Regions from separate parts of the Homo sapiens genome. Here region 1 is linked to region 2. Evidence: fine-mapped expression QTL. Tissue or cell type: whole blood. Region 2 holds a variant in brackets; the other region holds the start of a gene. All regions are shown on one strand. Distances are from middle to middle.

Region 1 (5,150 bases), 150 kb after region 2:
TTTTCCTACCTGCAGTGCCTTGGCCAGCACCACTACCTAAAGGTTTAGAGTATGTCTCATTTATCTTCATGAGATCTCATATACCATTGCCTTGGATCAGAGGACCCTTTTTACAATACCACTTTACCTAGAAGCTACTGGTTTGACAGAATGTTGGAATGGTCTCTTAAAGGCACAGCTAAGGCGCTAGCTTGGGATTGTGTGGGATTGAGACAATGTACTTCAAGATGAGGAACATGCTTTGAATCAAGGGCTGGAAGTAGGAGTGACCCCTCTCACTAATACTCTCAGTGATTGACTTGGGAAATTTGCACCTCACTTCTGGACAAGAGGTCCTGGGTCTGGTGGAGGGGAGAGATGGTTCTATCAGGGGACCCAGTAAAGGTTTCATTAAATCTTAAAACTACTGCTGCCACCTGGTCATTTTTGACTCCAAAAGCTCATAAGGAGTTATTGCACTGGCAGATGGAGATAGGGTTGCTGCTATGTGATTGGATGAGATTGGGGGTGCTCAGGGTGGTATGGCCATAAACTGCTAGATAAGTGGGATAGGGGATGCATTTCTTGAACTCAGGGGATTCTCTGAGACAGCTCTTGATGCTTTCATGTCCAGTGAATGGGTAATTGCAGCAACCAAAACCTTACAATGACACAGTAACCAAGGGCTTATGCTCCTCAGGGATGAAAGCTTGTTATCCTACTGGGCAAACACAGACCAGCAGAAGTGTTGGCCAAGAGTAAGGAAAATCTAGAATGATGTTAGAGGAAGGAGATGATCAATTAGAGACCTCAGATTAATTGCAGTAGTGGATTCTGCAGCTTGTCCCATTAATCTTTTTTTTTGTAAGTCCTTTTCTTTTAAAAATTGAGACTAGCCACTACCTTAAAGAATTAGGGTGGCATGGTGTGAACTTGATGTGGAGGAAGAATGGATACGAGTGCTGCAAAGGGTGGAATGTAGCAGCTGCTATTAGTGCCTCCCCCATATCCACTTGACATACACCTTTTCTATGCACGACCAGCCCAACTTCCAAAATGTTAGCATGTGCGACTTTTTGCCTAAGGGCTTTCTCTGGCTGCCAGAACCTACTCTCCCTGAACACAGGGTAGACTGGAAGTTCTAGGGCATCAATGTTCTGCCCTATCAGGCTTCATCCAATAACTGATGGAAGTTGGCGAATAAATACTCCAGCTTCCTTGCCCCTCAAGAGGGGATAACTGAGACATGCCTCCCAGTATTCCCTAGTGAATTCAGCCCACAGAGAAATTTCTCTGGTAATATTTCCTTTATTAGTTTTCTTCCCCTCCCTGCTGCTGTTTCCTGGGATTACGTCTCATATAAACAACCTGCCTTCAAAGTTTTGTCTTAGGATCTGATTCCGGGTGAAATAAACTAAGATAAAGTTAAAATGGAAGTGCTAAACTATAATAATTGAAAACTAGAATCCTTCAGGTATTTTAAGAGTTGCTATCCTAGATAAAAACACTGTGCAAACATTTAACTAATATTCAGAAGAGTTGGTTTCATTATGAAACAGAACACAGCTAACTATTTTTCCCAGTTAAAAGATCCAAGTCCAAAATGCCAGAACGGACACGGCCATCCTTCTAGTTCTTAATAAAAGGAGTACCAAACTACAGGGGGAAAGAAGCGCAAAATAACATAGACTTAAGTATTTCTTTACAATTTTTGTAATTTCTCAAATTTTAATTTACAATATGATCTTTGGTATTACATGAATGTTATCTGGGTATGCTATAATTCTATAATTTTTTTTTAAAGTTTCCTTACACTTAGCAGTTGAGAAGCCCTCTAGCAGAGGTTTCTGAGGTTTAGAGGTTTCCTGGGAAACCTAGAATTGCCGCCTAAGATAGGATAGCTGCCTCTCCCCTACATCTTATACTCTTGCAGTAGGTGTTCAGTAAATATTTGTGGAATAAATACTTCAGTCGTTGAAAGGAGACGTGGTTTTAAAAAGTGGATTTACAAAGAGACCGTTTTGCAAGAAAAGAAGCTGGTCTGGGGGTCCCCGCAGGAGGCGGGGTTCCGTGCAACAGATACCAAGATGCCTCCAGGGCGGACCACGACCCAGCGGGCCGCCGGAAGGCTCCTTACCTGGCCGCAGCCGGACCCTCCTCAGGGAAGCAACTGCCTCCAGGGACTCCGCGGGGCTGTCGGGCGGTTGCCGGGGAGACCTCTGGCCGCCACGCACCTGCTGCTTGGTGGGGCGGGGCCTCGAGAGGCGGGGCTGTAGTTCTTTGTCATTTCTTTTCCAATTCGAAATAGTCACTTTTGTACCTAATTTGGCATTTATAATTATAATACACTCATTTTCACAACTATGGAAGAGAGGGTACGCGCATGCCCATTTATGTCGCACACATGAAATGAAGAAACCTCATTTCAAGCGCGGCTCCGCCACACTGCGCTAGTCTCTGTCGACAACTTCAAGTGGCTAGCCTCACGCACAAACGTGTGGCAAAGCCACACTTTCCAGCTTTAGGTGATTTTAAAACAATTTCTTGGGCCACACAGCGTAGGTACAACATGGATTAGAGGTGAGGGGAAAACTGACACTCAGTGAAGGACCGTCAGAGGGCCGGCTTCCAGGAAAATGGGCCGCAGCAGGCAGGGAAAACACAAGGATCTATCCTGCAACTCGGAGAACCCTTTTCAAAAGAAGCTACCCAATCCCAAACCTTCCGCTTTTTTCCAAAGAGAGGGAGGAGATAAATAGACTCAATTAATCCGTCGACTTTTTCTCCGCCCATGTTTTCCTCCAATCCTTACCAAAGATGGTGCCCTTCGCTTCCTCTCTCGGCAGCACGCAGGTCCCGGGAGCCTCTACCCGACCTCTCTATGATACGTCCTCCAGCCCCGCTCCCGACGTGAGGGGCGGGGCTTGCCTGGAGGCGGGGCGCAGGGATCCGGAAACACCTGATCATCTATAGGTTTAGTGCCTAATGGGTGTTGTTCCTGGCTGGACTTGATGTCCAGGGCCTGAGGGGTTTTCTCGCCGAGTCTCCTGGGGCGGTCCGGAGGCTCGTGCCCTGTTGTGGGGCCCCCATTTGCCGCCGCCATGCCCACGGCCGCCGCCCCCATCATCAGCTCGGTCCAGAAGCTGGTTCTGTATGAGACTAGAGCTGTGAGTACCCCCTCGCGGCGGGGCGCAGGCGGGAGGATGGATGTCTGCCGGTGGGTGTGGGGCCGTAGGACAGAGGCTGTACTCTGCCTCCTCCTCCTTCCTCTCCAGTTCCCAAATCCCTGTCAAACACAGCCTTGGGGTAAGCTAGCTCCCTTGAGCTGTGCCTGGGCGCCTTTCCCCTATTTTGGTACCCTGGACATTGCAGCATTTGCAGGTCCACTTACAAGCCATGGCTGGAACACGCTGGAAACAGGTGCTTGTGGTACCTCAGGAACTGTTCATGAGGTTCTCTGTACGAGTTACTGGATTCTTTTCAGCTTTCAGAAAGTCTGTTAAAGTTCTAGAGTTCACAAGTTACAGTACAGGCAGGGGTATGAAAAAAATTTGAACTATGACTTGTAACTTATTTTTTCCTATTCCATGGTATACCATCACTGCGATTCATGTGAATTACACTTCTATTGGTGAACTTTTTGGTTCTCTTTTTTTCTTATTTGAAAGGAAAGGAAAACTTACTTTGTTTAAAGACAGATAATTTGTTTGGATAACATCTTGCTTTTCACTTGACTTTTTTCAACATAACATTTACTTTTAAAATTTTATTACTTTGAATGGCCATGTAAATAGTGAATAAGCAGATCAGTTTGTATTTCGATTACCAGTTCCTCAATTAAGGGAGAATGGTGTTTATATAACTTCATACTTGGTCCTTTCTGTGGGTGGAAAGCAAAGTTGGTACAGTATAGCTCTTCTAAATTGGGGTGCCACAGTGATATTAGGGACTGTGTTTAATATTACCCATTTCATGCTAACAAGATTGCATATGCCAGATATTTTCATAATGCTCTTCACTATGTTATAGAGTGCTTTATAAACTGTTTCTCTGAAACTTGGGTTGTCTCCATTAGAGGAGTATGAGAAGGCATTTAACAGTTTCTCAGTTATAACGTAGTCCTAATAGCACAATAACCTCTCCCTCAGGTTAACATGAGTAGAGAATTGTGGACCTTAAATTAATTTTGCTGACAACTTTGATTAGATCTAGAGCAGAAAATGACATTATCAAATATACTGTATTTGCAAGTATTTTCAGTTCTCTAATGAGACCCATAAAGAAGTATCATTTGTCATTGAAATGAAACCTATTTTCTGTAAAATATGCTGCTAAATTTCCCTCATTAGAAACATAAATAACTTTTTTTTTTTTCCCTTTGAGACAGAGTCTTGCTCTGTCACCCAGGCCGGAGTGCAGTGGTGCTATCTCGGCTCACTCACTGCAACCTCTGCTTCCCAGGTTCAAGAAGTTCTCGCACCCCAGCCTCCCAAGTAGCTAGGATTACAGGAATGTGACACCATGACCGGCTAATTCTTGTGTTTTTAATAAAAGACAGGGATTCTCCATGTTGGCCAGGCTGGTCTAAAACTCCTGGCTTCAGCCTCCCAAAGTGTTGGGATTACAGGCATGAGCCACCGCATCTGGCCGTAAATAAAACACAAATTTCAGCCCATTAAAAAGCTGATCACTCATGAGGACTGCGTGAGATATTAGTGTTCAGAAAGCACAATTCATATTATAGGGCTCTTCTGCTCAGAAATCTTCAGTGGTCCCAATTCTGAAGCAAGTAAACTCTGAATCCCTTAGTTGGCATTCAAAGCCATGTATTATTTGTCCTCAACTTGTCTATCTAGTTTTACATCTAATTTAATATCAATTAATGAAACATTTATTGAGGATCAACCATGTGCCTTCATATGCCTTATTCTGCAGTAAAACTGTATTGCTTTCAGTTCCCTATATCTGCCCTGTGTTTTTCTGCTGTTCTCTATTCTCTTAATGCCACACCCCCTCTTTTCCTGTCAAAACCTTGCTGATCCTCACAGCACATATCTGGTCATGCCTTGCAAACAGTAGTCTCTCAATAGATGTGGATTAAGGAGCTCTAACACAAAGAGATAGAGGTGTGTTCCAGAACTCAGCTGTGACCCCTCTCAACTGCCTAAGTA
Region 2 (5,328 bases):
CTCACTGCAACCTCTGTCTCCCGGGTTCAAGTGATTCTCCTGCCTAAGCCTCCGGAGTAGCTGGGATTACAGGCATGTGCCACCACACCCAGCTAATCTTGTATTTTTAGTAGAGACAGAGTTTCTCCATGTTGGTCAGGCTGGTCTCGAACTCCCAACCTCAGGTGATCCACCCGCCTTGGCCTCCCAAAGTTTTGGGATTACAGGCATGAGCCACTGCACCCGGCCCTACAATAAATTTTAATGGTGCATAATATTTAGCTATTTTGTTTAGGTTTTTACAGTTTTACCACAAATGCACTTTAGAATAACCTGAGGGTACTGAAAAATATCCCAGGCTCACACTCCTAGAGTTTCAAATTCAATTATTTTGGTGTGGGGTCCTGCAATCGGTATTTTTAAAGACTCTACAGATGTTTTTAATGTGTATCTCAAGTGAAAAATCACCAGCTTACATGAATATAAAGGAGAAAGTTCTTAAATGTATGTTAAACTACATTTTTAACTTTTAAGAATAAAACAAATAAAAGCAAATAAATGTACAATTCTATATAAATTAAGATACCGTATTGGTTCCTTAAGCCACCACTCAGAAAGAATTACTTCAAGAATTTCAGGAGGCAAGGGCTCATTTTCCATTAGACTTGATTTGATTACTTCTTCTTCTTCTGTAAGTTGTACTTCTGGAAGCTAAAAACAAAAATCAGAAAACAAAACAAGTTTTAAAACTCTATGCTAATAATTGCATGTTCTCACTCATATGTGAAAGTTAAAGAGGAGGACCTCATGGAGGTGGAGAGTAGAATGAAAGTTACCACAGGCAGGGAAGGGTGTGTGGTAGGGATAGAGGACATGAAGAGAGGCAGGATAATGGGTACAAACATACAGTTAGATAGAAGGTGTAAGTTCTAATGTTCAATAGCACAGAGGGAAACTATAGTTAGTAACAATGTATTGTGTATTTCAGGATAACTAGAAGAGAGGGCTTGAAATGCTCCCAACACATAGCAATGATAAGTGCTCAAGGTGATGGATATCATAAATACCCTGACTTGATCCTTATACATTCTATGTGTGTAACAAAATATCACAGGTACCCCATAAATATGTACAAATACCAATTTAGAAAACCCCAAAATCTATATTCATAAACAATATGGTATTACGTAGCTGATTAGAATGAGACCTGTTATTTTCTCTGAGGTCTTTTTTTATAGTGTTGCTTATAAACATTTAAAAATTTGGGCTATTTTCTATAAACCAATTATTTAATGTGGTTAGAAATACAGGTTGTACAAAAGTAATTGCGGTTTTTGCTTTAAAAGTAATGGCAAAAACACAACCACTTTTGCACCAACCTATAGTAAATAATATTTACTACAGCTAAGATAAATTATAAGTAATAATATGATTGATTTTCATACATGGCCTTGGGGTCATATCTCATTACTTTTTGCTAAACCTTTTTCAATTTATCACACACACGCCTATAAGGCTTAACTGATTTTTGTTATTTATATTATAATTTTACAGTATTATCTCTCCAACCTAGATCCTGATTATGGGATAAGCCAAACAGGCAGCCATCTGAAATACAAACTAGAAGAGGATTATAATGTAATAACAAATAGAAAGCATTGTGATAATTAACTGAGGTCAAGTCTCTCTAAAGTAGGATCACCCTTGAATGGATAGTAAAAAACAACAGTTCTTACAAAAATGAAACATTTTTGTTGAGTACTTTTGTCATCCAAAATTCTAAAACTGAATAGCTAAGGTATGATAAACTGCTGCTTACCGGGAAGCAGGATTAATTTTATTACCTAAAAATAAAATCCCTTAATTGCTTTCTGACAAGTTATTCAGAAAACAATAAAAGAAAACCAAACAAAAAACTGTAGACAAGCAGGAGATATTTGTTGCACTTTAAAATCTAGACTTGTTAAGTTAAAAAATCTGGACTGACATACTTTTTTCTTTTTTTGAGATGGAGTCTTGCTCTGTTGCCCAGGTTGGAGCACAGCAGTGCGATCTTGGCTCACTGCAACCTCCGCCTCCTGGGTTCAAGTGATTCTCCTGCCTTAGCCTACTGAGTAGCTGGCATTACAGGCATGTGTCACCACGCCTGGCTAATTTTTGTACTTTTAGTAGAGACGGGGTTTCACCACGTTGGCCAGGCTGGTCTTGAACTCCTGACCTCAAGTGATCTGCCTGCCTCCACCTCCCAAAGTGCTGGGATTACAGGCGTGAGCGACCGTGCCTGTCCCGATATACATTTTTTAAATTAATAGGATATCAGTTTCTCCTGAACGCTACTAAATATAGCTGAAAAACATTTAAAGAATATGTCTGAAGGCCAGGCACAGGTGGCTCACGCCTGTAATCCCAGCATTTTGGGAGGCCAAGGTGAGTGGATCACTTGAAGTCTGGAGTTTGAGACCAACCTGGGCAACATGATGAAATCCCATCTATACAAAAAATACAAAAATTACCCTGGCATGGTGGTGCATGCCTGCAGTCCCAGCTACTTAGGAGGCTGAGGTGAGAGGATCGCTTGAGCCCAGGAGTCAGAGGTTGCAGTGAGCTGAGATCACACCACTGCACTCTGGCCTGGGCAAGAGAGGGAGATGCTGTCTCAAAAAGAAAAAAGAATATGTCTGATCAGGTACTTCATTACCTATTAGAACACCATATGTCACTCACTATCCAACCCTGCTTCAACTTTGAGTGTTACATATAACTGCATTTGGATCATTTGAGAACAAATGGCCTATCTATATCAGAAATGGTTAAAATGTGAGTTAGAATGAAGAACTTTCATTGTATAACTCCAGATAGAAGCCATGTAAGAGGTTAATACGGTTTGGATCTGTTTCCCCGCCCAAATCTCATGTGGAATTGCAATCCCCAATGCTGGAGGTGGGGTCTGGTGAGAGGTGATTGGATCATGGGGGTGGTTTCTCATGAATGGTTCAGCACCATTACC[C/T]CCTTGGTACTGTCATGACGGTAGTGAGTGAGTGCTCATGAGATCCAGTGGTTTAAAAGTGTGTGGCACCTCCCACCTCACTCTCTTTCTCCTGCTCTGGCCATGTGATGTGTCTGCTCTCCCTTCACCTTCTGCCATGATTGTAAGTTTTCTAAGGCCTCTCCAGAAGCCAAGCAGATGCCACTATGCTTCCTGTATGGCCTGAAGAATTGCGAGCCAGTTAAACCTATTTTCTTTAAAAATTACCCAATCTCAGGTATTTCTTTATAGCAACGAGAGAACAGATTAATACAGTACAAACTTTCTGGTAAGACATCATTAGAAATTAATATTTTGAGATCTCCACTAAGGCTGGGGCAGATTTTTATGCTATTTGATAGAAATCAGAGAACACAATAATGGAAAAGTTTATTGTCTAAGTCAGATATACCAAATATCATACTTCCAAATAAATGCTATAAAACAGCCTTGTCAAGGAAAATTTTTCTGAATTTTTTTGGAGTCATATAAAACTCAGTACTTTATATTCTAGAAGAGCTGGAAGATTTGTATTTAGCATATGATGAATATGACTCTTTAAATGACTTTTATGGGCTAATTATTTTCTCTTCTTAGAAACTTTATAGAGTTTTATACTACCACTACCCCAGATTAACACCAGTAAGCACAGCTGTCTGCATAGATTAGTACTGCCAGGCACAGTGGCTCATGCCTATAATCCCAGCACTTTGGGAGGTCAAGGTGGGTAAATGGCTTGAGCCCAGGAATTTGAGACCAGCCTGGGCAACATAGCAAGACCCCCATCTCTACAAAAAATACCAAAACTAGCTGGGCATGGTAGTGCACACCTGTAGTCCCAGCTACTTGGGAGGCCAAGTGATATGGTTTGACTGTGACCTCACCCAAATCTCATCTTGAATTCCCACATGTTATGGGAGGGACACAGTGGGAAGTAATTGAATCATGGGGGCAGGCCTTTCCCATGCTGTTCTTGTGATAGTGAATAGTCTCACAAAATCTGATGGTTTTATAACGGGGAGTTTCCCTGCACAAGCTCTCTCTTTGCCTGCTGCCATCCACGTAAGATGTGATTTGCTCCTCCTTGCCTTCTGCCATGACTGTGAAGCCTCCCCAGCCACATGGAACTAATTGTAAGTCCATTAAATGTCTTTCTTTTGTAAATTGCCTGGTCTCGGTATGTCTTTGTCAGCAGTGTGAAAATGGACTAATACACCAAGGCAGGAGGATCACCTGAGCCCAGGGAAGTTGAGGCTTTGGTGAGCTGTGATTGTGCCACTGCCTTCCTGTCTGGGTGACAGATGGAGACCCTGTCTCAAAAACAACAACAATAACAACAGCAAAAACAAAACAAACAAAAAACAAAAAAAGAGATTACTACCTGCTTTTTTGTATTTTCTTCCTCAACTTTGACATTGGCCTGAATTGCAAGCTCTTCAAGTTCTTGTTTGGCAGCTTGCTCGTTCTCAGAATCTTCCTCAAATTCAGGTCCCACTTTCTTTTCAGTTTTGAGTAGTAGTTTTTCTTGAAGAACTTCTTCAAACTGAATGTGAAAAATGTTTAATTTTTCTGCCAACTGTCTTCCACACATAGTTTTGCCAGAGCCCTGGGGGCCGACAAGGCATATTCTTAATGGAGGAGCCTGTCACAGGGGGTGGGTCAGGGAGGGGTGGGATAAAGGGAGAGTGAAGGAAAAGCAGTTTTGAGTAATTTAGAACACATAAGACTTATTAACTGCCCTCCCTAAGATGGGGTAGGAATGATCACATCATGAACTCAAGGATGCTTAGATATTAGGATTTCAATTAACATAATTAGTTCCATCAACACTGGTCCTCAGGGAGCACCAACAACCATATATGATTATCTTGGTATCATATGCCAAAAGGCATTTAATAAAATAGAGTTTACTTATTTTTGTTTTTGACAAAAGTTTTAGTTAATACAGAATGGAAAGATACTTTCTTAACATAATAAAATAAATCTATCAAACAGAAAGCCCACTAATAATAAAAATTTACAGCCTTCTCCATTTATTACAGTAATCTCAGGACTCACATTGTGTGGATCATCCACGGGATGCTGAAACTGTCAAGAACAATGGTGAGTACTGGAATGAAGCAGCAGCTAAGTCTTCTGTGATTGTGAGGAAATACTAAGAAATTAGTAGGTGACAGCAGCAAGGAGGAACGGGGCTTCTTGATATATCCGAGTAGGATAAGCCTCAAAGGGGCTGGAGTTTTTGCAAGGGGAAGGAGAAAAATTAGAATGACATGAAATTATATAGCTGCAGCCTCACACCATACTTTTAAATCACATTTTAA

The links. PIP is the estimated chance that this variant, and not a neighbour inherited with it, causes the effect.
Region 1: FIG4 starts here. The variant in region 2 is fine-mapped to the expression of FIG4 in whole blood (TOPMed, PIP above 0.99).

What each region holds. Positions count from the first base shown.
Region 1 is chr6:109,688,356-109,693,505 of GRCh38, forward strand. It overlaps FIG4 (FIG4 phosphoinositide 5-phosphatase), which reads left to right and starts at 2,941. Exons shown (of 23, transcript NM_014845.6): 1 at 2,941-3,146. The coding sequence starts at 3,081. AK9 (adenylate kinase 9) reads right to left here and starts at 2,847. Exons shown (of 41, transcript NM_001145128.3): 1 at 2,792-2,847. RefSeq lists an enhancer at 2,425-2,894.
Region 2 is chr6:109,541,482-109,546,809 of GRCh38, forward strand. It overlaps AK9 (adenylate kinase 9), which reads right to left. Exons shown (of 41, transcript NM_001145128.3): 26 at 4,386-4,646; 27 at 566-690. Among named protein-coding and RNA genes, the nearest start is that of ZBTB24-DT, 61 kb to the left of the region's middle. The variant C/T (reference allele first, on the strand shown) is at 2,987.